Homo sapiens: one gene and its partners. The protein of the gene in region 1 purifies or fractionates together with the protein of each later gene. This does not show direct contact. Each region holds a gene or a part of one and is shown in the gene's direction. Other genes may lie near its edges.

Region 1 (7,869 bases):
CCCTGGACCGCGAGAGCGTGTCAGCCTATGAGCTGGTGGTGACCGCACGGGACGGGGGCTCGCCTTCACTGTGGGCCACCACCAGCGTGTCCATCGAGGTGGCCGACGTGAACGACAACGCGCCGGCGTTCGCACAGCCTGAGTACACAGTATTCGTGAAGGAGAACAACCCGCCGGGCTGCCACATCTTCACGGTGTCAGCGTGGGATGCGGACGCGCAGGAGAACGCGCTGGTGTCCTACTCGCTGGTGGAGCGGCGGGTGGGCGAGCGCGCGTTGTCGAGCTACGTTTCGGTGCACGCGGAGAGCGGCAAGGTGTACGCGCTGCAGCCGCTGGACCACGAGGAAGTGGAGCTGCTGCAGTTCCAGGTGAGCGCGCGGGATGCGGGCGTGCCGCCTCTGGGCAGCAACGTGACGCTGCAGGTGTTCGTGCTGGACGAGAACGACAACGCGCCGGCACTGTTGGCGCCTAGGGCTGGCACCGCTGCTGGCGCAGTGAGTGAGCTGGTGCCGTGGTCGGTGGGTGCAGGGCACGTGGTGGCGAAGGTGCGCGCAGTGGACGCTGACTCAGGCTACAACGCGTGGCTTTCGTACGAGCTTCAGCTGGGTACTGGCAGCGCTCGCATCCCGTTCCGCGTGGGGCTATACACGGGTGAGATCAGCACGACACGTGCCCTAGACGAGGCTGACTCCCCTCGACACCGCCTACTCGTGCTGGTGAAGGACCACGGCGAACCAGCGTTGACAGCCACGGCCACCGTGTTAGTGTCGTTGGTGGAAAGTGGCCAGGCACCCAAGGCCTCGTCGCGGGCGTGGGTGGGCGCCGCGGGCTCAGAGGCTACGCTGGTGGATGTCAACGTGTACCTGATCATCGCCATCTGCGCGGTATCCAGCCTGTTGGTGCTCACGGTGCTGCTGTACACTGCGCTGCGGTGCTCGGTGCCACCCACCGAGGGTGCGCGCGCGCCAGGAAAGCCCACGCTGGTGTGCTCCAGCGCCGTGGGGAGCTGGTCTTACTCGCAGCAGAGGCGGCAGAGGGTGTGCTCTGGGGAGGACCCCCCCAAGACGGACCTCATGGCCTTCAGCCCTAGCTTATCTCAAGGTCCAGACTCCGCAGAAGAGAAACAGCTCTCAGAATCAGAATACGTAGGAAAGGTGAGTCTTTTACTTTTTCTTGCCAATTCTAAAATTGTTCTTTTTAAAAAATTCTATATGATTTCTACTAGTTATTTAGATTCATAGTTCTTCATTTATTTTATATCATCCTACCGTGCGATTTTGAATATGAATTAGAGATCAATTTATTGCATTTACTGAACAATTTATTTAAACAATCTACATAACTGTTTTCTTATTTTTACATTTTGGCACTTCCATCATTAAGTCATAAGTAATAGACCATGAAACACTGAAAAACACCTCAGCAAAATTTGTAAATTAAACATTTCCCATAAATATTTTCTCTCTTAAAAATTGAAAATCACAATCGGAAGAAATTAAAGAATTTGATTATATAATACGTATTTTCAACTGACACTGTCTATCCAATCTGTCGGATAGTGTTTGGAATAACCTATATCCTGGACATTTCTTAGATTGTTCTTTGGATCAACAATGCCCTTGTCTATGCAATAGTTAATAAGCTACATTTTTTTTTTGTTTGTTTGTTTTTGTTGAGACAGTCTTGCTCTGTCACCTAGGCTGGAGTGCAGTGGTGTGATCTCAGCTCACTATAACCTCTGCCACCCGGGTTCAAGTGATTGTCTTGCCTCAGCCTCCTTAGTAACTGGGATTACAGGCGCCCACCACCACGCCCGGCTATTTTCTTTTTTAAATTTTTTATTTTTAGTAGAGACGGGGTTGGTCTCAACTAAATGTTGGCCAGGCTGGTCTCAAACTCCTGGCCTCAAGTGATCCACCCTCCTAGGCCTCCCAAAGTGCTGGGATTACAGGAGTGAGCCACTGCACCTGGTCTTTTTATTTGTATTTGAAAGCAGCCTGAGTGGATATTTTAACACCAGAATTTCCAAAAGTATGTAGCACAGGTTGTTACAACAAAATGACAGCACTTAGGAATAACTGCTAATCTTAAGTATGTTTTTTATAAGTAAAATAACCCATTATTTGGTATAAAGATTTCACACTGATAACATTTTTGAGTTATCAGGCAAAAATAGAGAGTATTGAGAAAAGAGACCCTCTCAATTTTGTTTAATTTGAAAATATTAACATTTAAAAATCACACTGGGGTTTTTCAGGTGGTGGGACTTTTTCTTCATTTAAGTGGAGACTACCCAGTCTTTATGTTAATGGTTGATAAATCATCCTTTCAGTATCATTATCATTAGGCCAATGTGTGCAGGCCTCCCACTGCAGAGATTGACTACTTTTTTCTGGCATCTAATTCTATGCGTGGGAATACATTTTCCATTAATGTGAGCTCACTCAATTTTACCTGGAAGCATCCATATTCCTAATGAAATTGGAATTTTTCCAAAAGATGAGGCCTGGTCTTGGATGACTACATTTTCACTTGAAACATTTATTTTGGGTAATTATAACACTGAACTCGACAAGTAAATGTTACACTTGGAAAGAACTTTTTTAGCTTTTCCAACCAAAGGCAGATGTATTGCAATAAAATAACTGTCTTAAACGGTCCTCTACTATTTAGTTCTTAGTTATTTGCTGTTTATTCTAAATATATGTGCATATTGATAAATCATAGAAATAACTTCCACTAGTGATCTTACCTTTAGCCATTTCATAGTTAGGTCAGAATATCCATTTCCAAGTAATACTTGACCACTATGTTTCTACCATAGGTAAATGATAAGCTTCTAAAATTATATTCACATATATCCAAATCTCCAGGAGTCACAATCTGTTGCTCTATAAGTTTTTTCAAAACATTCTTATTTACATTTTTTCTTGGTTGTCTAAGTGACATCTAGGTGGTAGTAGAAATTATTCACTGATACTTTATCTACAAAATGGCTCAATCTTCTAAACTCATAGTTCCTTTAATATTACCTTTATCTCTTAATAATCAGTATGGAGTCTACTCTGCTATAAATTCTCATGTGACATTCCATTTTGCAATTAGTATAACTCTTAAAGGTACTGAAAAGTGCAGTATTACAATAAGTTGTCAAAGGCATCTCATTACTATGAAGTCCATGAAGTTTAAAAATTTTAAATTTATCTCTTATTTTCAAACTAGCTACCATCTTTAAAAATTCAGCAAAGTGGTAACTGGAATATTAATAGCTATAATTATTTCTTAGGTCCATGCTTTTCAGAAATAATGCTTAAATGTTTACTTACTTCTTCATAATATAGCACAATATAATCATTTAGAAATTATGTAAGTTTGATATTAACAAATATCATTAACTTACATTTTTATTTATCTTGCTTGAAAAAGTTAATTCAAAATATTAATTTATTTATTCATGAAAACAACAATTGATAATTTATCCTATTCTAAATATGAATGATAAAATCTGAGTAAGTTGCAGTCCTGGCTTCCATTTCATGAATACACAGGAAACAAAAGCTGAAATGAAAACTTTTCCCCTAAATATTTAAATCACATGTTTGATTTCATTTTTAAATGGTCTGGGTATAAGCAAAAATTTGTACATTATTTTATTTCTCTAAATTTGACCTCTTTCCATAAATTTTCTTTGCCCCACTTCCAAATGCGGCGAGAATTCATGCTTCTCATTGAATTCACAGATATCTTTAGAATGTTTTATTGCTTAGTGTTAAATATGTTGAGTAAATACTGGCTTATGTTCCTAGGTTACTTTTCTCCCTTCACTGTTTAGTTAAATAATCAATTCTTTCAAGTAACAACTTTTAAAAAAACTGGAATCTAGAAATTCATCAGGAGTGGAGATCATCAAAAACGTAATTACTTTATATTGTTAACATTTTAGTATATACAGGTAAATTCAAATACATAAAGAGTGTGGAAAAATTAAACCTAATATATTCTTAATTGATGTGATGTGAGTGTAACAAATATACAAATCACATTCCCACAATAGGAAACAAATTTCCTGTTTGAATTTCTCTGTAAAGGACCGACTTCTGAAATCTTTATGTAAGTTACAGTCAAGACAGTTGATGAGGCTATAGTTCTTGAAAAAGGGGCATGGGAGGGAATTACAGACATTCTACAAATTTAAAAAACCATAAATGTACATATTTTAAGAAATTAACAGTTGCTGTAATAACATAAAAGTAGATATATGTATGTTTTAATATATACAGCACACACACACTTTTAAATACTTCAACATCTCAATGTTTTGATGATCATAAATCTGAAAGGATCTGATTTTTCTATAAAATGTAACTTGGGTGGTAAAGAGGTTAATGGTAAGTTGTCTTGAATCAGATTGAAATCCCATCGTACCAAGAGATAATATCGTTTTACTTAACCTCTATGTGTTTATAAAAAGCGAATAATATTAAAACTTATTTCAGAGGATTGTGATAATTTAACGGGATAATTCCATTAAGACAAATAGAAAAGTGGCTGTCACATGGGAAATATTTCCAATAGATGTCCACTGTTAAAACAGGAATCACAATATTTTAGTGTATGTCATGAATTAGCACAATTGATAGTGAATTAGTATAAAAGTTCTAAGGAAATATTTAGATAAAATATAAGGACTTTGAGGAGTGACCGAAGGATATTACAATTGAAACTAGAAATTTTGGGAAAGTTCAAACGACATACAAGGAAAAGAAGATACGTTTACATATTTAATACTTACACGTTTAGCCACATGATGTCGCTGTCCACCACAAGGTCTTTCTCCACAAAAGAAATAACAGCGTGCATTACGTATTCAGATACTGCTTTGCTTCATCCTCTCTAAAATTTAACACCGAGGAGTTTAAGAAATGAAGATAAGGAACTCGAATTATTTTTAAACTTTGGATCAATGTAAAGGCAATCTAATATTTGGAAAATACTTGCAATGTTGTTCTCCTGGCGAGAAGATCCTGGAGCCCAGTGCCTGCTGCTTTCTCTTCTGCTCCTCGCAGCCTCGGAGGTGGGGAGCGGCCAGCTCCACTACTCCGTCTCTGAGGAGGCCAAGCATGGCACCTTCGTGGGCCGCATCGCGCAGGACCTGGGGCTGGAGCTGGCGGAGCTGGTGCCGCGCCTGTTCCGGGTGGCGTCCAAAAGACACGGGGACCTTCTGGAGGTAAATCTGCAGAATGGCATTTTGTTTGTGAATTCTCGGATAGACCGCGAGGAACTGTGCGGGCGGAGCGCGGAGTGCAGCATCCACCTGGAGGTGATCGTGGACAGGCCGCTGCAGGTTTTCCATGTGGAGGTGGAAGTGAAGGACATTAATGACAACGCGCCAGTTTTTCCAATGGCTGTAAAGAATCTGTTTATTTCCGAATCCCGACAGCCTGGCTCTCGGTTTTCGCTAGAGGGCGCATCAGATGCAGATATCGGAACAAATTCGTTGTTGACTTACAGTCTTGATTCCACTGAATATTTTACCTTGGACGTTAAAAGAAATGATGAGGAAATTAAATCCCTTGGACTCGTGTTGAAAAAAAATTTAAATCGAGAGGACACTCCTAAGCATTATTTACTAATAACAGCAATTGATGGTGGGAAACCAGAGCTCACTGGCACGACTCAACTAAAGATCACTGTTTTAGATGTAAACGACAACGCCCCAGCGTTTGAGAGGACGATCTATAAAGTCAGATTACTCGAAAATGCACCAAATGGTACCCTAGTGGTGACCGTTAACGCCACCGATTTGGATGAAGGAGTAAATAAGGATATCGCGTATTCTTTCAATACGGACATGTCAGCAGATATTCTGTCAAAATTCCATTTAGATCCAGTCAATGGACAAATCAGTGTAAAGGGTAACATAGATTTCGAGGAAAGTAAGTCATATGAAATCCAGGTAGAAGCCACGGATAAAGGAAATCCCCCAATGTCAGATCACTGCACAGTTCTACTCGAAATTGTGGACATCAATGATAATGTACCTGAGTTAGTTATTCAATCACTATCTTTACCTGTATTAGAAGACTCTCCACTTAGCACAGTCATCGCTCTGATCAGCGTGTCCGACCGCGACTCAGGAGTCAATGGACAGGTCACCTGCTCGCTGACGCCCCACGTCCCCTTCAAGCTGGTGTCCACCTTCAAGAATTACTACTCATTGGTGCTGGACAGCCCTCTGGACCGCGAGAGCGTGTCGGCCTATGAGCTGGTGGTGACTGCTCGGGACGGGGGCTCGCCTTCACTGTGGGCCACGGCCAGCGTGTCCGTGGAGGTGGCCGACGTGAACGACAATGCGCCGGCATTCTCGCAGTCCGAGTACACGGTGTTCGTGAAGGAGAACAACCCGCCGGGCTGCCACATCTTCACGGTGTCTGCGCGGGACGCGGACGCGCAGGAGAACGCCCTGGTGTCCTACTCGCTGGTGGAACGGCGGGTGGGGGAGCGCGCGCTGTCGAGCTACGTGTCGGTACACGCGGAGAGCGGCAAGGTGTACGCGCTGCAGCCGCTGGACCACGAGGAGCTAGAGCTGCTGCAGTTCCAGGTGAGTGCGCGCGATGCGGGCGTGCCGCCTCTGGGCAGCAACGTGACGCTGCAGGTGTTCGTGCTGGACGAGAACGACAACGCGCCGGCACTGCTGATGCCTCGGGTGGGTGGCATCGGTGGCGCAGTGAGCGAGCTGGTGCCGCGGTCAGTGGGTGCGGGCCACGTGGTAGCGAAGGTGCGCGCAGTGGATGCAGACTCAGGCTACAACGCGTGGCTTTCGTATGAGCTGCAGCCTGGGACCGGCGGTGCGCGCATCCCGTTTCGCGTGGGGCTGTACACGGGAGAGATCAGCACGACCCGTGCCCTGGACGAGGTGGACGCCCCGCGCCATCGCCTACTGGTGCTGGTGAAGGACCACGGTGAACCCTCATTGACCGCCACGGCCACTGTGCTGGTGTCGCTGGTGGAGAGTGGCCAGGCACCCAAGGCCTCGTCCCAGGCGTCCGCTGGCGCCACGGGCCCGGAAGCTGCACTGGTGGATGTCAACGTGTACTTGATCGTCGCCATCTGCGCGGTGTCCAGTCTGTTGGTGCTCACACTGCTGCTATATACTGCTCTGCGGTGCTCCGCGCCGCCAACCGAAGGCGACTGTGGGCCGGGCAAGCCCACGCTGGTGTGCTCCAGCGCGGTGGGGAGCTGGTCATACTCGCAGCAGAGGCAGCAGAGGGTGTGCTCTGGAGAGGGGTTGCCCAAGACCGACCTCATGGCTTTTAGCCCTAGCCTTCCTCCTTGTCCAATTAGCCGGGATAGAGAGGAGAAACAGGATGTGGACGTTGATCTCTCAGCCAAAGTGAGTAATTTTTATTTATTCTTTCCAAAATGTCTTTGTTTTTCATTCCTCAATGTTTCCACTCCTCTGGAAATACATTAATAGTTAAGTATGAATTATGTGATTCATAATTAGACTTTTCCAGTTTTGTGGTTTTGTGGTTAAAACGGTAAGATTTTTGTTGCTAATTTTTGAACCAAATCAGCAGTAAGTTATGATATCCACACTTGTAATTTTGTTTTGTTATTAGGTGCAGTAGTAGAATTATTTTATTGCTAAATGCCTGGGTATAAGACAAATATTTTTTCTTAGATGAATTGCATTATTTAGAGAATCTGACTTCGACTTGTTTTATACTTATCCCTATACAATGCTTCTTCAATATCTTTTGCCACTTTTCATTTGGACTTCCTACTACCTGTTAGTACAAATGTTACTTGCTCATTTTATGAGTTCACCTAATGCTTATAACTCCCTATTGATTATGCTTTTCCACC
Region 2 (7,025 bases), on another chromosome or scaffold:
GTCACCCTGGCTGGAGTGCAGTGGCGTGATCTCAGCTCACTGCAAGCTCCACCTTCTGGGTTCACACCATTCTCCCGCCTCAGCCTCCCAAGTAGCTGGGACTACAGGCGCCTGCCACCACGCCCGGCTAATTTGGTTTTTATATTTTTAGTAGAGACAGGGTTTCACCGTGTTAGCCAGGATGGTCTCAGCTAGTCTCCACCTCCTGACCTCGTGATCCGCCCCCCTTGGGCTCCCAAAGGGCTGGGATTACAGGCGTGAGCCACTGCGCACGGCCGGCCTGAGGGTTTTAAGGTACAAGGAGCAACTGTTGAATGGGCCTAGGGAGCCGTGGGACAGCCAGGGCTTCAGACAGGGTGATGTGAAAGGAGAAGAGAGCCTGGGAAATGGATAAGCAGAAGCCACGCCCCCCTGACCTGGGAGCCGGGTCCTGCCCACCTGTCCACGCAACCCCCCCAGGAACTTCAAATGCTTCTACCTCCCTGTGTGCTGGATGCTTCGGGACTATCATCCTAGAGATGAGAAATGGAAGCCCAGAGAGGCAAAGGCACTTGCTGTATGAAACACAGCATCAAAAAAGAAATTCTTAGGAACAAATGATGGGCAAAAAGACAAAACCCTGTCTCTACAAAAAAAATTAGCTGGGCATGGTGGCCTGTGCCTGTAGTCCCAGCTATTTGGAGGCTGAGGTGGGAGAATTGCTTGAGCCTGGGAGGTCAAGGCTGCAGTGAGCTATGATCGCAACACTGCACTCCAGCCTGGGTGACAGAGAGAGACTGTCTCAAAAAAAGACTTATACACGAAAACTGTAAGCTGGGCATGGTGGCTCACGCCTGTAATCCCAGCACTTTGGGAAGCCGAGGCTACAAGAGTGATAAGTAAATAAATGAATGAATGAATGAATGAAAGGACATCACAACCGAGGTTACCTGGCAGGGTTGATACGTTAGCCATGTACCCTGTGCACAGTGAGCCCTCTAGGAGTGTTGAAGCCAGAGTGCTTGGGGATGGGGCTGCTCAGAGGCTGGGGGTGCTGTGCCCACAGCAGCTGCCTGGGGCACTCTGGACTCTTTGGGTAGAAATTTTAGAAGGGCTCGCCGGGCGCTGTGGCTCACGCCTGTAATCCCAGCACTTTGGGAGGCCGAGGCGGGCGGATCACGAGGTCGGGAGATCGAGACCATCCTGGCTAACACGGTGAAACCCCATCTCTACTAAAAATACAAAAAATTAGCCGGGCGTGGTGGCGGGCGCCTGTAGTCCCAGCTACTTGGGAGGCTGAGGCAGGAGAATGGTGTGAACCCGGAAGGCAGAGCTTGCAGTGAGCCGAGATCGCGCCACTGCACTCCAGCCTGGGTGACAGAGCGAGACTCGCTCTCAAAAAAAAAAAAAAAAAAAGGAAAAATTTTAGAAGGGCTCAGATTGGGGGATGAAGGAGGGAGCCCAGAAAATCAGCAGCCTACCCCGCACCCGCCCAGCTTTTCCAGCTTAGTGAGCTTTTTCAGAGGCTCTTGTGAAACCACAGATGCCTAGCACCATCCCTACCCCGGCCTGAGGAGTTGATCCAGCCAGTCTGGGGAGGGCCCTGGCATCTGCATATGTAAAAGGTGCTCCAGGTGGTCTGGGACCGTAGATGAACCCTGACAGAGGCTGTCCAAGGGTGGGGCTGGTGAGCTCTACCCGCTCTGGAGCCCCAGAACATCCACTGGCTGCCTGCCCTGCTAAGGCCACAGCTCTACAGCACAGGAGGAAGGAGTGAAAAGAATGTCTGTGGCCGGGCGCAGTGGCTCAGCCTGTCAGCCCAGCACTCAGGGAGGCAAGGCGGGTGGATCACCTGAGGTCGGCAGTTTGAGACCACCCTGACCAGCATGGTGAAACCCCGTCTCTACTGAAAATACAAAACTTAGCTGGGCGCCTGTAATCCCAGCTACTCGGGAGGCTGAGGCAGGATAATCGCTTGAACCTGGGAGGCAGAGGTTGTAGTGAGCCGAGATCATGCCATTGTATTCCAGACTGGGCGACAGAGCAAGACTTCATCTCAAAAAAAAAAGAATATCTGCAATAGAACCACCTGATACCATTCCCCAAGTCTCAGTTTACCCATCTGTAAAGATAGGCCTGCAGGGCTGACCGTTTATTAGTCCAGACTTGACTTTGCATCTCCTCACTGCCAGACCTGGGCTGGGCACGGGCATGGAATGAAGATAAGCATCCCTGACCCCTGCCCTCAGGGTGGGGACTGGATGAGGATAGAAAAGTGAGACCCAGAGCTCCAAGGAAGCTAATGGCTGGATGCACGAGCACCATGGGGGCTTGGGGCACTGTCCAGGCCCCATTCTCCAATTCTGGGCCATACCCAGCAGAAAGACCGACACACGCAAGGAAACAAGACACTACTGGCCAAGCACGGTGGCTCATGCCTGTAATCCCAGCACTTTGGGAGGCCAAAGTGGGCAGATCACTTGAGGTCAGGAGTTCGAGACCAGCCTGGCCAACATGGTGAAACCCCATCTCTACTAAAAATACAAAAATTAGCTGGGCATGGTGGTGCATGCCTATAATCCCAGCTACTCGGGAGGCTGAGGCAGGAGAATCGCTTGAACCTGGGAGGCAAAGGTTGCAGTGAGCTGAGATCAAGTGACTGCACTCCAGCCTGGGTGACAGAGTGACACTCCGTCTCAAAAAAAAAAAAAAGATACGGTAAGTAAGAACCGACGGAAAGAAGAGCCAGATAAAGGACACAGGAAGACATGAGCTTTGGGCTCTGTCAGACCAGGTGCTTACTGTTTTGTGTTTTGTTTTGTTTAGTTTTTTGAGATGGAGTCTCACTCTGTTGCTCAGGCAGGGGTGCAGTGGTGTGATCTTGCCTCACTGCAACCTCTACCTCCCAGGTTCAAGTGATTCCCCTGCCTCAGCCTCCTGAGTAGCTGAGATTACAGGCACGCGCTGCCACGCCCGGCTAATTTTTTTTATTTTTAGTAGAGATGGGTTTCACCATGTTAGCCAGGTTGATCTCGAACTTCTAACCTCAGGTGATCCACCCGCCTCGGCCTCCCAAAGTGCTGGGATTACAGGCGTGAGCCACCGCGCCCAGGCTGATGTTTATTGTTTTTAAGGAAGCAAGAGGAGAAGGTGCCTCCCCAAATGACCTTTCTCTTTTCTGTCCACAGACAGCAGCCCTCTCGTGGGCAGCACGCCCACCGGTTATGGGACCCTGACGATAGGGACATCAATAGATCCCCTCAGCTCCTCAGTTTCATCCGTGGTAAGTGGGCAGAGTGGGGTGGGGAAAAGCTGCAGGGGGTGAATGCCCAGGCCCACCCAGACACCCCAACTTCCTACTCCAGCCCCGTTCCCACCCCGACCTGGGCCCTCTCTCGCTGCGTTCGCAGAGGCTCAGCGGCTACTGTGGCAGTCCATGGAGGGTCATCGGCTATCACGTCGTGGTCTGGATGATGGCTGGGATCCCTTTGCTGCTCTTCCGTTGGAAGCCCCTGTGGGGGGTGCGGCTGCGGCTCCGGCCCTGCAACCTGGCCCACGCCGAAACACTCGTTATCGAAATAAGAGACAAAGAGGTGAGAGTCAGGCTGAGCCTGGGGCTAGAGAAGCGCAGTGAGGGTCAGGGTCGGGGGTGGAGGATGCTTGGGTGCCAACCCGGCCACTGACTTTCCATGGGACATTAGGCAGGTCCCGCTCTTCTCTGGACCTCAGCTTTCCCATCTGAGCATTGGGCAGAAGGGACGGGTCGGGTGGTTTCTGGAGGGCTCTCCATAGCCTTGATTTCTGCCTTCTCCAGCAGGGGCCGCCTGGCTGTAGGACAGGGCCTGGGAGGGGAGGGGACTCTTCTGAGACTGAGTCCATACCTCTGTGTTCCAGGATAGTTCCTGGCAGCTCTTCACTGTCCAGGTGCAGACTGAGGCCATCGGCGAGGGCAGGTGAGGCAGCCCCATTGCCCCTTCCCAGAAGCCCCTGCTACCCTGGCCTCCCCAACTTCCCCAACCCTCGGCCCCCCCATAAAGGCTGACTCTGGCGCCTCCCATCCTAGGGAGGGAAGATGGCTCTGTGAGCACAGGGAGGTGCCAGGGCAGCTCCCAGAGCTCGAGAGTAACCCTCACCTGCTTCCCCAGCCTGGAGCCGTCCCCACAGTCCCAGGCAGAGGATGGCCGGAGCCAGGCGGCAGTTGGGGCGGTACCAGAGGGTGCCTGGAAGGATACGGCCCAGCTCCACAAGAGCGAGGAGGCGGTGAGTGTCGGACAGGTGGGTTCTGAAAAAGTCCTTGCCCCTCTCTCGGCCTCGGTTTCATGATCTGTGCAATGGGAGAGTCAGACTTCATGTTCTCCCACCACCTTTTAGTTCTGTTGTCCCAAACATCCAGGATGCTGTCTGAGCACGTTTACACTTTCAGGCCTCTCCCCACCTCTCTGTCTGGTGACACCAGTCCCTGCCCCCTACCCCCATCCCTCGGCTCCCAGCATAAGCACACTGCTTCTGGGGCCGGGGCCAGCTTCCAACCCATCCTCTCCTCTCTCCCACCCAGAAGCGGGTGCTGCGGTATTACCTCTTCCAGGGCCAGCGCTATATCTGGATCGAGACCCAGCAAGCCTTCTACCAGGTCAGGTAGGAGTCAGGGCCTGTGTGGCTCATGTCACCTCCCAGAGTGGCACTGGTTTGGGCACAGACGGTGGCATGGCATGGCCTGGGCTCCCCTCTCAGCTCTGATGCTTTTGCTGTCTGAAACCTTGGGCAGGTTACTGAGCCCCTCCAGGCCTGGGATCTCTGTCTATAAATAGGGCATGAAGATAACTTCTGCCTCCTAGGATTGTTTTGATGGTGAAATAGATAATAATTTATGTAGAGCTTGGCACCGAATGTGATCTGAGGTTGTGACACCACTGTGAATCAGACTATCAGCTCTGTACTCAGACTGTCTGCTTGGGGTTTAGTCACTGCTCTGCCACCTACAAAAGGCTTAAGAAACATGAGCTCAGGCTGGGTGCGGTGGCTCACCCCTGTAATCCCAGCACTTTGGGAAGCCAAGACAGGTGGATCACGAGGTCAGGAGTTCAAGATCAGCCTGGCCAAGATGCTGAAACCCCATCTCTACTAAAAACACAAAAATTAGCTGGGCGTGATGGCATGTGCCTGTAATCCCAGCTACTTGGGAGGCTGAGGCAGGAAAATCGCTTGAACCTGGGCGGCAGAGGTTGCAGTGAGCCAACATCGCGCCACTGCACTCTAGCCTGGATGACAGAGCATGACTCCATCTCAAAAAAAAAAAAAAAGAAAAAGAAACACAAGCTCACCACACACCTTAGTTTGTGTGTATGTGTGTGTGTGTGTGTGTGTGTGTGTGTGTGTGTGTGGTTTTTTTGGTTTGTTTGTTTGTTTTTTAAGATGGAGTTTCACTCTTGTTGCCCGGGCTGGAGTGCAATGCCGCATTCTCGGCTCACTGCACCTCCGCCTCCTGGGTTCAAGCGATTCTCCTGCCTCAGCCTCCCGAGTAGTTGGGATTACAGGTGCATGCCACCACACCCAGCTAATTTTTGCATGTTTTGTAGGGACGGGGTTTCACCATGTTGGCCAGGCTGTTCTCAAATACCTGACCTCAGGTGATCCACCCGCCTCAGCCTCCCAAAGTGCTAGAATTACAGGCATGAGCCACCGGGCCCTGCTCACACACTTTAGTTTGAATGCCGCAGAAGCAGACCCCCAGACAAGGGCTCAAGGGCAGGGAGTTTGTTTTGAAGCTGATCCCAGGCAGTGCTGGGGAAGGGATGGAAGCACGGAGGGAGGTTATGCTGGCTGCCACAGCTGTGGACACCCGGACTTCAGTCGCCTGGGGATCTCCTTGGGCCAGCGTAGACCACACACCTCTGGGCGACCTCACACAGGGAGTGAGGACAGTTACCATCAAATTCCCTGCCATTATCAGTCACGGGACACAAAGTCTTCCACGCTTTCCGGGCTCACAGGCAGGGGATTCACATGCAGCCAGAAGGCCTCAGGTAAAGACAGGTGTTTTCAGGGTCCAGCTGTCATGTGGAGGTGAGGCAGAGGGGAGATGGGGATGGCAGCAACAGCCTCTGCTGCATGATGGGGATAATAGCAAAAATCACCCGTGCATTCATCACTTAGCAAGTGGCAGGCACGTCCAAAGCAGTCCCCGAGGCTTGCCCCACTTAATCTACCCATGGCCCTATGTGGTAGGTGCTGTCACTGCCCCCATTTTGCAGATGAGAAAACTGAGGCACAGAGAGGTTAAGTGACTTGCCCAGGGTATCATCAGTGTAAATAGTGCCCTTATCACTAAATAACAGCTACTCTTTTCACTGTTCATATTATTAGCATCATCTCTCGCTGTTCTCCTTCTTCAGTGACTTGGTTTGGAACCCAGTGAGAGGAACAAAAGGGCAAAGCCAAGCCTTGGGTTCAAGGGGGCTTACTTGCTCCCAGGAGCTCAGTGTGGCAGAACGGGGATGGGGGGCCTAGAGCCCATAGTCTCCAGCCTGCACAGGGTGGGGGATGCAGACCTCAGGCCCCATGGCCCATGCGTGTCCCCTCGCACCCACCCCCAGCCTCCTGGACCATGGCCGCTCTTGTGACGACGTCCACCGCTCCCGCCATGGCCTCAGCCTCCAGGACCAAATGGTGAGGTCAGTGCTGCCCTGGACCGGGGTGCCCTGAGAACTGGGGCTCCTTGTGTTGCCCCCCAATGTGGTTGCCTTCCAGTCACCTGCCTTCTCTGGGCCTCAGTTCCCCCAGCTGAAAGTGGGGAGCTCCTTCACCCCGGGAGGGTCCAGCCACAGCTCCTCCTTCTGATGGCTTGGCCTCATCCCCTCTTCCAGGAAGGCCATTTACGGCCCCAACGTGATCAGCATACCGGTCAAGTCCTACCCCCAGCTGCTGGTGGACGAGGTAGGGCTGTCCCTGGGTCTTGCCCCAGCCCTGCCTGGCGTGCTGTGTGACCTTGGCCCAGGGCTTGCCTCCTCTGGGCCACTTTACGGTGGCAACCAGACCAGCTGTCCCCT
Region 3 (7,025 bases), on another chromosome or scaffold:
GATCTTATGCAGCTAGCTATAACTTGAGGTTAATAGTATGTACCTCACAGGAAGATAAAAGTGAGTAATTCATGTAAAACACTTAACATGGTACCTGCTACATAGTGAACATACTATTTAAAGGTAAAGTTTAGGAGTTGAAGCTTGTTTTCTGAATCTGCTAGTATTTTCACCCCCTACAAAAAACTATTGTATTAGAAAGTGAAAAGTAGAACCAGATTCCATGGAAGAACCAGAGTGACTCTTCTGCTTTAAGACTTGATTTGGTATTAAAATTGGAATTTTATGTTAATTTAAAAGAGTATCCTACTTTCTGTTGAACTGGAAAATACTTCTAAAGGAATTTCTTGCTTGTTTTAGGCCTTTAGTTTGAACACAGGCAATGTGTTAAGAATCTGGGATATATATGTTAAATAAAGCACAGTTCTTGCCCTTAGGGACTATGGACATTTTTAACAATGTAAGATTTTCATGACTTCCAGTATGTTCCTGGTTCTGATTTTTTTGTCAATTATTTTAGAGTCATTAAAGTTGGTTAAATAAGATGCTTTATGCTCGGTCCTGGTTCTCAAAATGAATTTGATCCTAGAAGGTTATTTCTTTATTTAAGAAAATCATCTTTATCTTTTAATTACAGACGCAGGGACAGAGCTCATCGGGAAATCAAGGATATTTTCTATAAGGCAATCCAGAAACGCAGACAGTCTCAAGAAAAAATTGATGACATTCTCCAAACTTTACTAGATGCTACATACAAGTAAGAGCTATTCAGATAACATATTAAGCTGAAGCAGGAAATTACACATTAAAACACAGTTAAATAGTATTTCCAGTTAAAAAACAGTGATGCTGGCAAAATAAGTTGGTAGCTGTGATCTTTGGACTCTTTAAATTGTTGAGACATAAACTATTGGCATCCTGTGTCTTACTGTAATCCCAGTGACTGGGTATGGTAAAAGTTTGCTAATGAACTGTAATGGAGTCTTTTGTAATCAAAATCGTTTTGTGCTGGTCTGTCTCTTCCCTAAGAGAAAAAAAACTCTTGACTTGTGATAGTCAAATATAAGAGACCACTATACCTGAAAAATGTATTCATTATGACACTTTATTTAAAGGTTGAGGCATGAAATGTATCTGCCAAAATGTTAAATTTGTGTCTTTGGTTCATTCCTTAGGGATGGGCGTCCTTTGACTGATGATGAAGTAGCAGGGATGCTTATTGGATTACTCTTGGCAGGGCAGCATACATCCTCAACTACTAGTGCTTGGATGGGCTTCTTTTTGGCCAGAGACAAAACACTTCAAAAAAAATGTTATTTAGAACAGAAAACAGTCTGTGGAGAGAATCTGCCTCCTTTAACTTATGACCAGGTTTGTTGGATTTTTCAGTTTCATTGCTGCCTTATGACTTTGAGGATCTGTGGCTAATTTTTAAAAGGGACAATTTGAGATTTTCTATATACTATAGCTTAAATTGATCAGCTTCTCTATTTTTAGCAAATTCCCTATAACCTTACCTAAAATATCTTAATGTTATTGCTTCTTGCCATTAAGCTTTATCAGATATGTTTTGGGTTGATGGCTTAGAGATCCTTGGGGATGTTTCTTTGGTACTTACTTCCTCTGCTTCAAAGTCTGGCTTCTGTACATAGAGGATATTATGTGCATGTTGTGTGTCTTATGAAGTGTAGAAGCCTCTGAATTACTTAGAATTCTGTATGTCCAGAGTGGCCTGGGCATGAGCAGAGACTTCTAAAAGTAGTAGTAGTAGTAGTAATGAGGACAAGACATTTACAAATACTACATGCAACTTGCTGGGTGGAAAGGAAGAGAGGACAACTCACTGCACAACCTGACATTCCATCTTGGAAGCAAACCTTGGTGATGTCATCTTCCTGTTATCTTTTGTGCTTTTGGTCCTATATTAATATGGCACATTACACTGATTTTCAGATGTTAATTGTATTCCTGGGATAAATCCTACTTTGTCATGGTGCATAGTTCTTTCTATATGTTACTACATATAAACTTGCTGGTGTTTTGTTGAGGATTTTTGCATCTATATTCATAAAGGATATTGATCTCTAGTTTCACTGTGATGTCTTTGACTGGTTTTGATATCAGGATCATACTCATCTCATAGAATGTATTTGGAAGTATTCTTTTTTTCTTCTAATTTTTGGAAGAGTTTGTGGATGATTGGTGTTAATCCTTTTTTACATATTTGCAAAAATTCAGCAGTGAAATCATCTAGATCTGTGCTTTTCTTTCTGAGAAGACTTTACTTACTAATTCAATTTATTTGTTACAGGTTTATTCAGATATTCCATTTCTTCTTATGTCAGTTTCAGTAGTTTATATCTCTCTAGGAATTTGTCCATTTCATCTAGGTTACCTAATTTGTTGGCATACAATTGTTCATAGTATTCTCATAATCCTTTTTATTTCTGTAAGCTCAGTAGTGATGTCTCAACACTCATTCTTGTTTTTAGTAACTTAAAATAACAGCTTAACTGATATATTTACATAGCATAAATCCATCCATTTAAAATGTACACTTTGTGGTTTTTAGCATATTAAGAGTTGGGAAACCATCATCATAATTTAATTTTAGAACATTTACATCACTCCCAAAAGAGAGCTGGTACCCATTAGCAGTCATGCTTCATTCTCCCTGACTGCTGCCCCTGGCAACCATTAATCTCCTTTTGCCTCTGTGAGTTTGCCTATTCTGGATATTTCATGTAAATGGGATCATACAATTTGTAGTCTTTTGTGACTACCTTGTTTCACTTAGCATGTTATCAGGGTTCTTCCATGTTGTAGCATGTATCAGTACTTCAGTCTTTGTTATTACCAATAATATTCCATTATATGGATAGACCACATTTTGTTTATTTGTTCATCAGTTGATGGACATTTGAGTTGTTTCCACCTTTTAAACTATTATGAATAATGCCGCTCTAAACGTTTGTGTACTGATTTTATGTGGACATGTGTTTTCAATTTTGGGGGGTCATACCTAGGAGTAGAATTGCTGGGTTATAAGGTAACTTTGAAGAACTGCCAGACTGTTTTAAAAAGTGGCTGCACCACTTTCAAATCTCACTAAACAGTATATGTTGGTCCTGACTTCACCCCCTCACCAAACTTGTTACTTGATTTTTTTATTATAATAGGTGTGAAGTGATACTTTTTTTTTTTTTTTTGAGACAGAGTCTTGGTGTGATGCCCAGGCTCTAGTGCAATGGCGCGACCTTGGCTTACTGCAACCTCGGCTTCCCAGGTTCAAGCTATTCTCCTTCCTCAGCCTCCCAAGTAGCTGGGTACACACCACCACGCCTGGCTAATTTTTGTATTTTTGGTAGAGACAAGGTTGTACCATATTGGCCAGGCTGGTCTTGAACTCCTGACCTCAAGTCATCTGCCCGCCTTGGCCTCCCAAAGTGCTGGGATTACAGGTGTGAGCCACCATGCCCAGTTGGTATTTTGTTTTGATTTTGCATTTCCCTGGTGACTAGTGATGTTGAGTGTCTTATGATGTGTTCTTTGGCTTTGGTATACTTCTTTGGAGAAATGTCTGCTCACATCCTGTTCCCATATTTAAAATGAGTTGTCTTTTTATTATTGAGTTGTAAGAGTTCATCTATTTTTTTTTAATGTGCTTTTGGTGTCAGAGAAACTAATGCCTAATCAAAGTGTATGAAGATTTATTTCTGTGTATTCTTCTTAGTGTTTTGTAGTTTCATATCTTACATTTAGGTCTTTGATCCATTATGAATTAATTTATGTATATGATGTGAGGTCATCATTCTTTTGCATGTGTTTATCCAGTTGTCCCACACTGTTTGTTGAAAAGACTATTTTTTCCACGTTGAATTGTCTTTGTAAAAAAATCTATTATAGCCAGGCGCAGTGGCACGTGCCTGTATTCTCAGCTACTGAGAAGCTGAGATGGGAAGGTCGCTTGAGCTCAGGACTTGGGGTCCAGCCTGGGCAACATAGCGAAACCCTGTCTCTGAAAAAATAAATACATTTTAAAAAGCCTCTTGACCATAAATTTAAGGCTTTATTTCTGGACTCAGTTCTATTCCATTGATATGTTTAGTCTGATGCCATTACGTAGTTTTGTAATAAGTTTTGAATTCGGGAGTGTGAGTCCTCTGACTTTGTCCTTTTCAAGGCTGTTTATCTACTCCTAGTCCCTTTAGTTTCCATATGAATTTTGGGGTCAGTGTGTCAGTTTCTGCAAAGAAGCTAGCTGAGATTTTTGACAATGATTGCATTGTATCGCCATATTAATTTGGGAGCACAATTTTAGTCTTTAAATCTGTGAACATGAGATGTCTTTCTCTTATTTTAGTTCTTTAATTTCTTTCAACAATGTTTTATAGTTTTTGGTGCACAATGTTTAAACTTCTCTTGTTAAATGTATTCTTAAGTATTTTATTATTGTTATTTTTTTGATGTTATTCTTTCTTCTGCCAGTCCAAATCTGCTGTTGATCCCCTCGGGTGAATTTTTCATTTCAGTTCTCATACTTCTCAGTTCTTGAATTTCTATTTGGTTCTCTAAAAAAATAATATATTGATATTCTCCATTTTACTAGAGATATCTAGGCATATTTTGCTATAGTTCTTTGAACCTGTTTATAATAGCTGATTTAAATTCATTATCTAGTAAGTCCAATGTCTGGGCTTCTTCATGGATAGTTTCTATTAAACTGCTTGCTTTTTCTATGTACTGGCCATACTTTCCTGTTTTGGTGTGTTTTTTGTAATTTTTTTGTTGAAAACTGTACATTTAAAATAATGTGGCAACTGTGGAAATCAGATGCCCTCCTCCCTGGGTTTATTGTTGCTGGCTCTTTGTTGTTGTTGTTGTTGCTGCTGCTGTTTGTTTACTGCGTTTCCTGGATTAATTATGTCATTCCTTGTTCAGTGAGGTCACTGAAATCTCTGCTTGCTTACTTTAGTGGGCATCTAATATTTGGACAGAGATTTACTGAAGTGCTTTGAACAGCCAGTCTCCTAGCTTTTGCTGAAAGGCTCTGTATGTGTGTGTTAGGGGATGTTATTAACACTCCAACAGGCAGTTACAAGTCTGCCTTCACTACCTGTGTGTACAGGTCAGCCAGAGGTAAAAGATTACAGCCTCTTAGATCTTACCTGGGCATATGCATGGTCTTATACATATGTGTGGCCTTCAAGATTCTCTTATGTTGGAACTTTTCAAAGTCTCCTGTGGACATCTTACTCCCCAGTTTTCCCTTTTAAACTTCTTGTTCTGTCTCTTAGCACCAACTGATATCACCATCTCAGGCGCCTTCAGTGTTAAACAATTTTTGCTAAATATTTTTGGAAAATTTGCTCTGGCTCCTCTAATAGTTGTTAGGCTTCTGGCTTTCACAGCTGCTATAGTTGTCATGCTGTTGGTTTCCGGGGCTACCATGGATTTGGGGAGAGGAGGATGAAAGAAATACAACTTACACTACCACAAAGCTTACTCTTCTTACCAAGATTCAGATTTCTTTTTCTTGAATTAACTCTCCTTAGATTGTTGCAAGCCTTTGGTTAATCTTCCAGAATTTTGAAAAAGTTGACATTAAGATTGTTGCTACTGTTTTCATTTTTTGGAGGAGTGAATTTTTGTAGGTTCTTACTTCATTCTTCAGGGCAATCGCTTCTGTTACCTTGCCCTCCTTTTTCACCATGGACAGTGGTAGAGCATGATAACCCCAGCCACCCTGAACCAGTTACCTCTGTACTTTTAGCTGGAATGCAAGCTGTCTTGTACTAACTAAGAAGTTAAACTAATTTTTTGTACTGTTGAAGTATGTTATTTATAACAATCAGGAAATGCTTTCTCATTTTAGCTCAAGGATCTAAATTTACTTGATCGCTGTATAAAAGAAACATTAAGACTTAGACCTCCTATAATGATCATGATGAGAATGGCCAGAACTCCTCAGGTGAGTATCTTGGCTACATCTTCCCCTCTATACCCCCAGTTTTTATCAAAAAGAAGAAATAGGTGGGTGTGGTGGTTCACACCTGTAATCTCAACACTTTGGGAGGCTGAGGTGGGAGGATCACTTGAGGCCAGAATTTGAGACCAGCCTGGGCAACATAGTGAGACTGACCTCATCTCTACAAAATTTTTTCTAAAAATTAGCTGGCCATAATGGCACATGCCTGTGGTCCCAGCTGCTTGGGAGGCTGATGTGGGTAGATTGCTTGAGCCTGGGAGGTTGAAACTGCAGTAATCCATGATCACGCCACTGCATTGCTGCCTGGGCAACAGAGCAAGACCCTGTCTCAAAAAAAATAAAAATAAAAAAGAAAGAAAAAGAAAAGAGGAAGTAGAGTAGCATAAAAGAGATTTTTTTAAATTAAAAAAGTAGAATAATCACTTCTACCTAATCTTCAGTTTTATATACTCTAAAAACATATTTTTACCTAATTGTAGATAGTATACGTGCTAATCTGTTTTTTTTTTTTTTGAGACGGCATTTCACTCTTGTTGCCCAGGCTGGAGTGCAGTGGTGCGATCTCAGCTCACTGCAACCTCCGCCTCCCGGGTTCAAGCAATTCTTCTGCCTCAGCCTCCCAAGTAGCTGGGATTACAGGGGCATGCCACCATGCCTGGCTAATTTTTTGTATTTTAGTAGAGATGGGGTTTATCCATGTTGGTCAGGCTGATCTCGAACTCCCGACCTCAGGTGATCCACCCGCCTTGGCCTCCCAAAGTGCTGGGATTACAGGTGTAATCCCGCGCCCGGCCTACATGCTAATCTTTAATGCTAATCATGTTCTGCATTTTTCTTTAACAATTGGGGTTTTAAAAATCAAAGTACATATTTTTCTTGGTTTTAAAAATAACATTTTGTTGTAAAAAATTGTTAATATGAAGTGTACAAATTGATAGTGAAAGCCTCTCTGAAATTCCAACCCTACCTCCAAGGCATTATGGGTTTGATTTGTGTACTGTGTACTTCCAACCCAACGCTGGCTCACTGGAAATCA
Region 4 (7,025 bases), on another chromosome or scaffold:
TTTATGAAGGCAGAAAATGAGACTTGATTATTGATTTGGGAATTGAAAAAGAAGTTTAACACAGCTTTAGGGTTTCAAACTGTGTGATTACAAAAATAAAAAAAAAATGTTGTTTCATCAAAACAAGTCAGAATGGGGAGACAATTTTCCAGGCAGGAAAGAGGGGCTGTTGGGTAGTAAAAAAAAAAGAGATGATATGTGGGTCCAGGTATATATGTATTTTTAATAAATGTTGACTTTCTAATTAATTAAGTTTATTGATATATAATAGTTGTGCATTTTATGAGGTACATGTGATATTTTGATACATGCATAAAATATGTAATGATCAATCAGGGTAATTGAGGTAGCCATTACCCCAAACATTTATAATTTCTTTGTGTTAGGAATATCCCAAATGTTCTTTTCCAGCTATTTTGAAATATACAATGAAGTCTTGTTAAGCATAGTTGCCCTACTGTGCTTTGAAGCACTGGAATTTATTTCTTCTGTGTAACTGTATTTTGGTTACTAATAAACCAGTTTCTCTCCATCTTCCCCTCCTCATCACCCTTCCCAGCCTCTGGTAACATTCTGCCTACTATCTCCATGAGATCAATTATTTTAGCTCACACATTTGAATGAAAACATGATATTTGTTTTTCTGTGGCTTATTTCTCTTAACACTGACTATGTTGTTTTTCTGTGGCTTATTTCATTTAACACTGACTATGTTGCTGCAAATGACAGAATTTCATCTTTTTTATGGATGAATGGTATTCTACTTTGCATATATACCACAAATTTTCTTCATCCATCCATTCAAATATGTTATTTAAAGTATAAAGAGGAAATGTCTAGAAAGCATTTAGATACACAGTATTGGAACTTTGAAGATAAGCTAGTTTTCTGTAGAAAAAATATTTTTTATCTTCCAGCTGAAAAAGGCTAAATAGGGAATGTTTTTTCCAAAAATATAAATACAGAAGAAACAGTAGAATAATTAGTGTTGTACTACTGACGAGTGTTTTGTTTTAGGGCAGAAACAGGAAGCATTTCAAAAACTTATTAGGAAAATAAAACAGCAGGAGTAAATCTGACCCCAAATAAGTGTGAAAAGATTCCTAAAATGCACCTAAGATAGAACTATCAAGTATAATATTGCTTTATTTTGCCATCTGATAATACTGGTTAGAATACAGGAGCATTGGGGAAACAGATGAATAACAATTTAAGCTAGTAGAATTCTTAAGTCACTGTCAAAAATTGTATCTGATGGTGATATTGAATTTATAAAGGACTTCAATTAGAGGAAAACATCTTATTTATGATGCACTTGGATTTTAATTACTCATCCTGGACCCTTCACATAGTATATTATGATAATAAAATAAAGCTGTTCTTTTTTCATGGCATCCACATTTATACATGTCTTTTTTCTTTTAAGTCCATAAGTATAGATAATTTTTATTAAATATCTAATCTACCCATATTAATTCCAGCCTTCTTATACCTTTTTTCAAATAAATATAATTGTGTTAATTATATAGAATTTAAAAAATTATGCTTACCTTATTTGTATTTTATAATAAATTATGTTTCTTAAGCTTAATACAATCATTTCCCATAATTATTTTTGACAGAATGTTCAAAGAAAATGTTGTCACCCTTTTGAGACTAAGAACATGTCATTTTGTCAAATATTTATGTTCTTGATTTCAAATGATGTTTAATCTTTTTACTTATGAATAAAATATGTATGTCACAATGTGGACAGGTAAAGTAGACATATTTTTAGAGAATTTTCTGTCTTTTAGATACTCTTATTTTTTATTAGTTTTAAGCTAAAACATCAACTTGACTGCTATTAAAAAAATAAAAAAGCTTTTCTTACACCATTGCAGTGATCTGTATTTGTGGCATTGAGATAATTAAATTTCAGTGGAACCAGAACAATGATAAATTATCATTTGAAAGATGCCTACCATGACATGTAATATATAAAAACACAGTTTAAGAAATTTGCTTTATTGGACTCATAGGTTTTGTAGTGACAATAATAGGAAAAGGAACTTTTGCTACTGCATCAATGAATGCAGAGAATAATGGATTATACTGTTATCTTTTATGTTTTTCTAAAAATTCACTTTCGGAAGTTTGTTTTAAATGAAGAAGCAACATTAATTTGATGCGAACAATAATAAATCACTAGATGATATGGTATTAAAAAGTGTAATGTGCACTATTAGTTTTCTTCATCAATCCACAATGCTATTGATATTTAAAGTAACTATAAAGCAGTGTGCATAGATGACAAAATCCAGTTAATAGGTCCAAGAACACTAGTCTCAACTTTTATTTGGTCAAAGAAAATAGACTCAGTGTTTTTGATTGCCTTTTCTCATTTTCATTAAGGAGTATATTTTGTGAATTTTTCCCTTCAGTCTTTAAGACAAAAGTGCAAACTTTATTAGCGTTCTCACTTTTTAATTAGTTTTCCTGTTCATTTTATATACTGCCTCTTAAAAATATTATAGAAGTATTAAATACTTCTTTCATTTGGACTTGGAACATGACTTTCTTAGAATGCTGTGTTGCATATATTTATTTTCTTCTCTCCTTTTCAAACCCTTAGTGGCTTCCTACTGCCTTTAAAACACAAATTGAAACTACTTATTCTGAAACTTAAGGTCATTCATTACCTGTTTCCTACCTTTGTTTTTGACTTTACCTACCATGATTTACTAGTTTTCTAAAGTCAAATCATTTCTAAGCACATCAGAAACATCCATCCTCTGTGGTCTCCATTGACAACATTTGGGATCACCTCCTGTTCCTTCCTCCTAAATCTTCTCTGAAGCCTGGAGAGGCAAGTTCAACCCAACCCCACAATAAAGCAGTTCCTAATTCTCTCTGTTGTTCTTTTTCACTTTGTATGATGTTTGGAATTTCTTTTTTTTTCTTCCATTATATCTGCTTCATAAATTTTACTTTAATCTTCTGCCGGACAGGAGTCATGTTTTGTGATTTTGTTTTAATTCTAAGGTGTTAGCACAGTTTCCTACAGGTGCTCAAGAAGCAGTCACTAAAGATACTCAGGCATACCTCAGAGATTTTGCAGGATTGGTTCCAGACTACCACAATAGAGTGAATATTGCAATCAAGCCAGTCACTTGAATTTTTTGGTTTCCCGGTGCATACAAAATTTATGTTTGCATTATACTTTAGTCTACTAAGTGTGCAAAAGCAAAGCATTATGTCTAAAAATTTACTTAATTAAAAAACAGTTTATTGCTAAAAAAAAAATGCTAGCAGTCATCTGAGCCTTCAGGGAGTCATAATCTTTTTTTGCCGGTAGAGAGTCTTGCCTCAATGTTGATGGCTGCTGACAGATTGGGGTAGTGGTTACTGAAGGTTGGAGGGGTGTGGCAATTTCTTAAAATCAGACAACAATGAAGTAGTATGCTGCATTGATTGACTCTTTCTTTCATGCAATATTTATCTGTAGCATGTAATACCCTTTGATAGCATTTTACCCGAAGTGGAACTTCTTTTGAAACTGGAGTCAATCCTTTCAAACCCTGCTGCTACTTTGTCAACTAAGTTTATGTAATAATATAAATTCTTTACAGTCATTTCAACAATGTTCATAGCATCTTCACCAGGAGTAGATTTCATCTCAAGAAACCAATTTATTTGATGATAAATAAGAAGCAACTCCTCATTCATTCAAATTTTGGTCAGAGATTGCAGCAGTTGAGTCACATCTTTGGGCTCCACTTCTAATTCTAGTTATCTTGCTATTTCTACCACAACTGCAGTTACTTCCTCCATTGAAGTCTTGATCCCCTCAAAGTCATCGATAAGGGTTGGAGTCAACTTCTTCCAAACTTCTGTTAATGTTGATATTTCTACCTCATCCCACGAATCATGAACATTGAAATTACTCTTTGATCCATGGGCTGCAGAATAGATGTTGTGTTAGCAAGAATGATACAATACTAATCTCATTGTACATCTCCATCAGAGCTCTTGGGTGACCAGGTGCCTTATCAAGGGGCAGTGATATTTTGAAGTCTTTTTTTTAAGTGTTAAGTCTCAACAATGGGCCTAACATTTTCAGTAAACTATGCTTTAAACAGATTTGCTGCCAGTCAGGCTTTGTTTTTCCATTTCTGGAGCATAGGCAGAGCAGATTTAGCAGAATTCTTAAGTGTCCTAGGATTTCCAGAATGGTAAATGAGTATTGGCTTCAACTGAAAGTCACCGAATGCATTAGCCCCTACCAAGAGAGTCAGCTTGTCACTGAAGCTTTGAAACTAGGCTTTGTCTTCTCCTCTCTAGCTACTTAAGTACTAGATGGCAACTTTTTCCAATAGAAGGCTGTCTTCCAAATTGAAAATCTGTTGTTTAATTTAGCCACCTTCATCAATAATCTTATTAATAGTTTGATTTTTTTGATAACTTGCTGTAGCTTCTGCATTAGCACTATCTACTTCATCTTGCACGTTTATGTTATGGAGGGGACTCATTTCCTTAAGCTTCATGAGCTAACCTCTGCTAGCTTCCTCTTCCATAGCTAACCTCTTCCATAGCTTCTTCACTTCCCTCACCTTTCAGAGAATTGAAAAGAGGTAGAGCATTGCTCTGGATTTGGCTTTGGATTAAGGGAATGTTGTAGCTGGTTTGATCTTTTTTCCAGACCACTCATACTTTTGCCATCTCAGCAATAAGGCTGTTTCCTTTTCTTATCAGTTGTGTATTCACTGGAGTAGCACTTTTAATTTCCTTAGGAACTTTTCCTTTGCATTCACAACTTGGCTAACTGGCACAAAAGACCTAACTTCCAACTTATGTAAGCTTTTGATGTTCCTTCCTCACTAAGCATAATCATTTCTAGCTTTTGATTTAAAGTGAGAGACATGATACTCTTCCTTTCACTTAAACAATTACAAGTCATTTTTGGGTTATTAACTAATCTAACTTTAATGTTTTTGTGTCTTGGGGAATACAGATGGTGGAGGAGAGGGAAAAGAGTCGAGGGAATAGCCAGTTGGTGGAGTGATCAGAACACACATATTTTATTGGTTAAAATTGCCTTCTTATATGGGTGCGGATAGTGGTATCCCAAAACAATTACAATAGGAACATCAAAAATTACTGATCACAGATCACTATAACAGATATAATTACAATGGAAAAAGTTCAAGTTACCAAATCTGACACAGAGACCCTAAGTGAGCACATGCTGGAAAAAATGTCTCCAACGGACTTGCTTGATTCAGGGTTGCCACAAACCTTCCATTTATAAATAATTCAATATTGGCAAAGTGCAATCAAGTCAAAAGCAATAAAAAAGGCATGCCTGTACATCATTTGACAGTCTAAAGTAAGACAACTCTCTGAAAACAAATTCTCACATTAATGAAATGTTTGAGTTTGGCAGATAAACATTTTTCTATTTACTAGCAGAATTAATTAAGAATTATTCTCTATACTTTAGTATTATCACTTACTATACCATAAGCTGAATTTTAGATAAATAATTTTCCTGCTAATTTAAACGTTATGCATTATATTCACTATAACATTTGTTAAACTGTTGATTTTATAGATTCATAAAATATTTAAATTGAAAAGACTATAGAAATTGCTTACATCAATCTCCTAATTTTTTAAGTGATAAAAATAAGACAAAGAACAGTTAAGTAATGGAAGAATGATGGCTAAAATGTAGGTCTCCTTCATAGAAAAATGGCCAAAGTAAGGGATAATAAGTCAACAGCATACTTAATCATAAAACTTTGATGAGACGAAGGTGCTGAAATTGATTATAATTGAAAAATAATGGTGACTGACAGTCAACATGCACAGGGAAAAAGATGAAGAAGAAAAATAATAGTGCTTGATTCATCAGCATTCATCATCATAATCTTCTCAGGTATGAAAATGATAATATTAACCATGCCAAATTGTAAAGGCCAACCAAACAGTGAGTTCTACCACCAATGTTGTATACAGACAGTTTAGATAATCTGAAAACTGAACAAATAAATTAGAAATATGAAGTGTCAGTGTGAATTAATGTTGCCTGTATTTACTATTGCAAAGTTATTTATTTTGTTTTCTTTTATTAGATACTTAATTCGACCAGATCCACTGGCCTACCTTCCAAACAGTGAGCCCAGTCGAAGAAACAGCATCTGCAATGTCACTGGTCAAGATTCTCGGGAGGAAACTCAACTTTGATAAAAATAAAATGAGAAACTTTTTTCCTACAAAGACCTTGCTTGAAACCACAAAAGTTTTGCTGGCACGAAAGAAACTAGATGGAAATATATGTAATTCTCTCATATTTAAAAACGTAATCTCTTCTCTTAGAAGTATAGATCATTTTGAAACTTAATGTACTACTTACTGGTACTCTCCCTATTAATATTTGAAGGACCTCAATGGAATAAATTTGAAAAGCTAAATTAAAATACAAAAATTTAAATCTGACATTTAATTGTTTTATAATAATCCAAACTCTATGAAAGCAATTTTAAAAATTATTAAGGTTTTATGAAGTTGACAAAATCTAACTATATTTGGTGCATCACAATGGACACAGAATGCTGCTGCTCCTCTTAAAAATTAAATGTGTCATATTATATTCTTTAAACTTACTGTTTTACAAAATTGAGCTCATCGTAAATGTCTAGTCTTCTCACATAGAGATTAACCAACAAACTTGTGTGGCTGACTTTTGTGTAAGAATCATAGTTTGCTTTAGAATACAAATCTTTAAGTCATTTTAACTTTTTTTTCTGCCTTACGATATAAAAATATTTATCTTAGAATTTGAGATGTTCATAGCATGTTTTATTACATTGAAGAAACTAAAACATAAATGAAAAGAAACACTAGGTTCCTGCACTTTTTGGTAACTTTATGTCTAGCAAATATTTTATGCCAAGAAAAGCATACTATAAAGCAAATATCTATTATTCTCCTAAACGAATGCCTAGCATAGAGAAAATACTTAATACACATTTGTTGACTTA

The links.
Region 2: the proteins of PCDHA3 (region 1) and ATP13A2 purify together in Homo sapiens (affinity purification with mass spectrometry; 2 studies listed by BioGRID and IntAct, with this or other methods). This does not show direct contact.
Region 3: the proteins of PCDHA3 (region 1) and CYP51A1 purify together in Homo sapiens (co-immunoprecipitation; 3 studies listed by BioGRID and IntAct, with this or other methods). This does not show direct contact.
Region 4: the proteins of PCDHA3 (region 1) and KCNT2 purify together in Homo sapiens (affinity purification with mass spectrometry; 2 studies listed by BioGRID and IntAct, with this or other methods). This does not show direct contact.

The regions. Positions count from the first base shown.
Region 1 is NC_000005.10:140,796,199-140,804,067, forward strand, and holds the start of PCDHA3 (protocadherin alpha-3 isoform 1 precursor), read left to right. Parts: upstream 1-4,858; 5' UTR 4,859-4,999; coding exon 5,000-7,393; coding exon of another isoform or gene 7,394-7,474; exon of another isoform or gene 7,475-7,869. Other genes in the region: PCDHA2 (protocadherin alpha-2 isoform 1 precursor), read left to right, coding at 1-1,154. UniProt on the Homo sapiens protein: Potential calcium-dependent cell-adhesion protein. May be involved in the establishment and maintenance of specific neuronal connections in the brain.
Region 2 is NC_000001.11:17,001,921-17,008,945, reverse strand, and holds part of ATP13A2 (polyamine-transporting ATPase 13A2), read left to right. Parts: intron 1-3,167; coding exon 3,168-3,262; intron 3,263-3,389; coding exon 3,390-3,572; intron 3,573-3,873; coding exon 3,874-3,932; intron 3,933-4,124; coding exon 4,125-4,254; intron 4,255-4,534; coding exon 4,535-4,614; intron 4,615-6,572; coding exon 6,573-6,650; intron 6,651-6,842; coding exon 6,843-6,912; intron 6,913-7,025. UniProt on the Homo sapiens protein: ATPase which acts as a lysosomal polyamine exporter with high affinity for spermine. Also stimulates cellular uptake of polyamines and protects against polyamine toxicity.
Region 3 is NC_000007.14:92,117,466-92,124,490, reverse strand, and holds part of CYP51A1 (lanosterol 14-alpha demethylase), read left to right. Parts: intron 1-637; coding exon 638-757; intron 758-1,175; coding exon 1,176-1,371; intron 1,372-5,875; coding exon 5,876-5,971; intron 5,972-7,025. UniProt on the Homo sapiens protein: Sterol 14alpha-demethylase that plays a critical role in the cholesterol biosynthesis pathway, being cholesterol the major sterol component in mammalian membranes as well as a precursor for bile acid and steroid hormone synthesis.
Region 4 is NC_000001.11:196,227,427-196,234,451, reverse strand, and holds part of KCNT2 (potassium channel subfamily T member 2), read left to right. Parts: intron 1-6,116; coding exon 6,117-6,228; 3' UTR 6,229-7,025. UniProt on the Homo sapiens protein: Sodium-activated and chloride-activated potassium channel. Produces rapidly activating outward rectifier K(+) currents. Contributes to regulate neuronal excitability.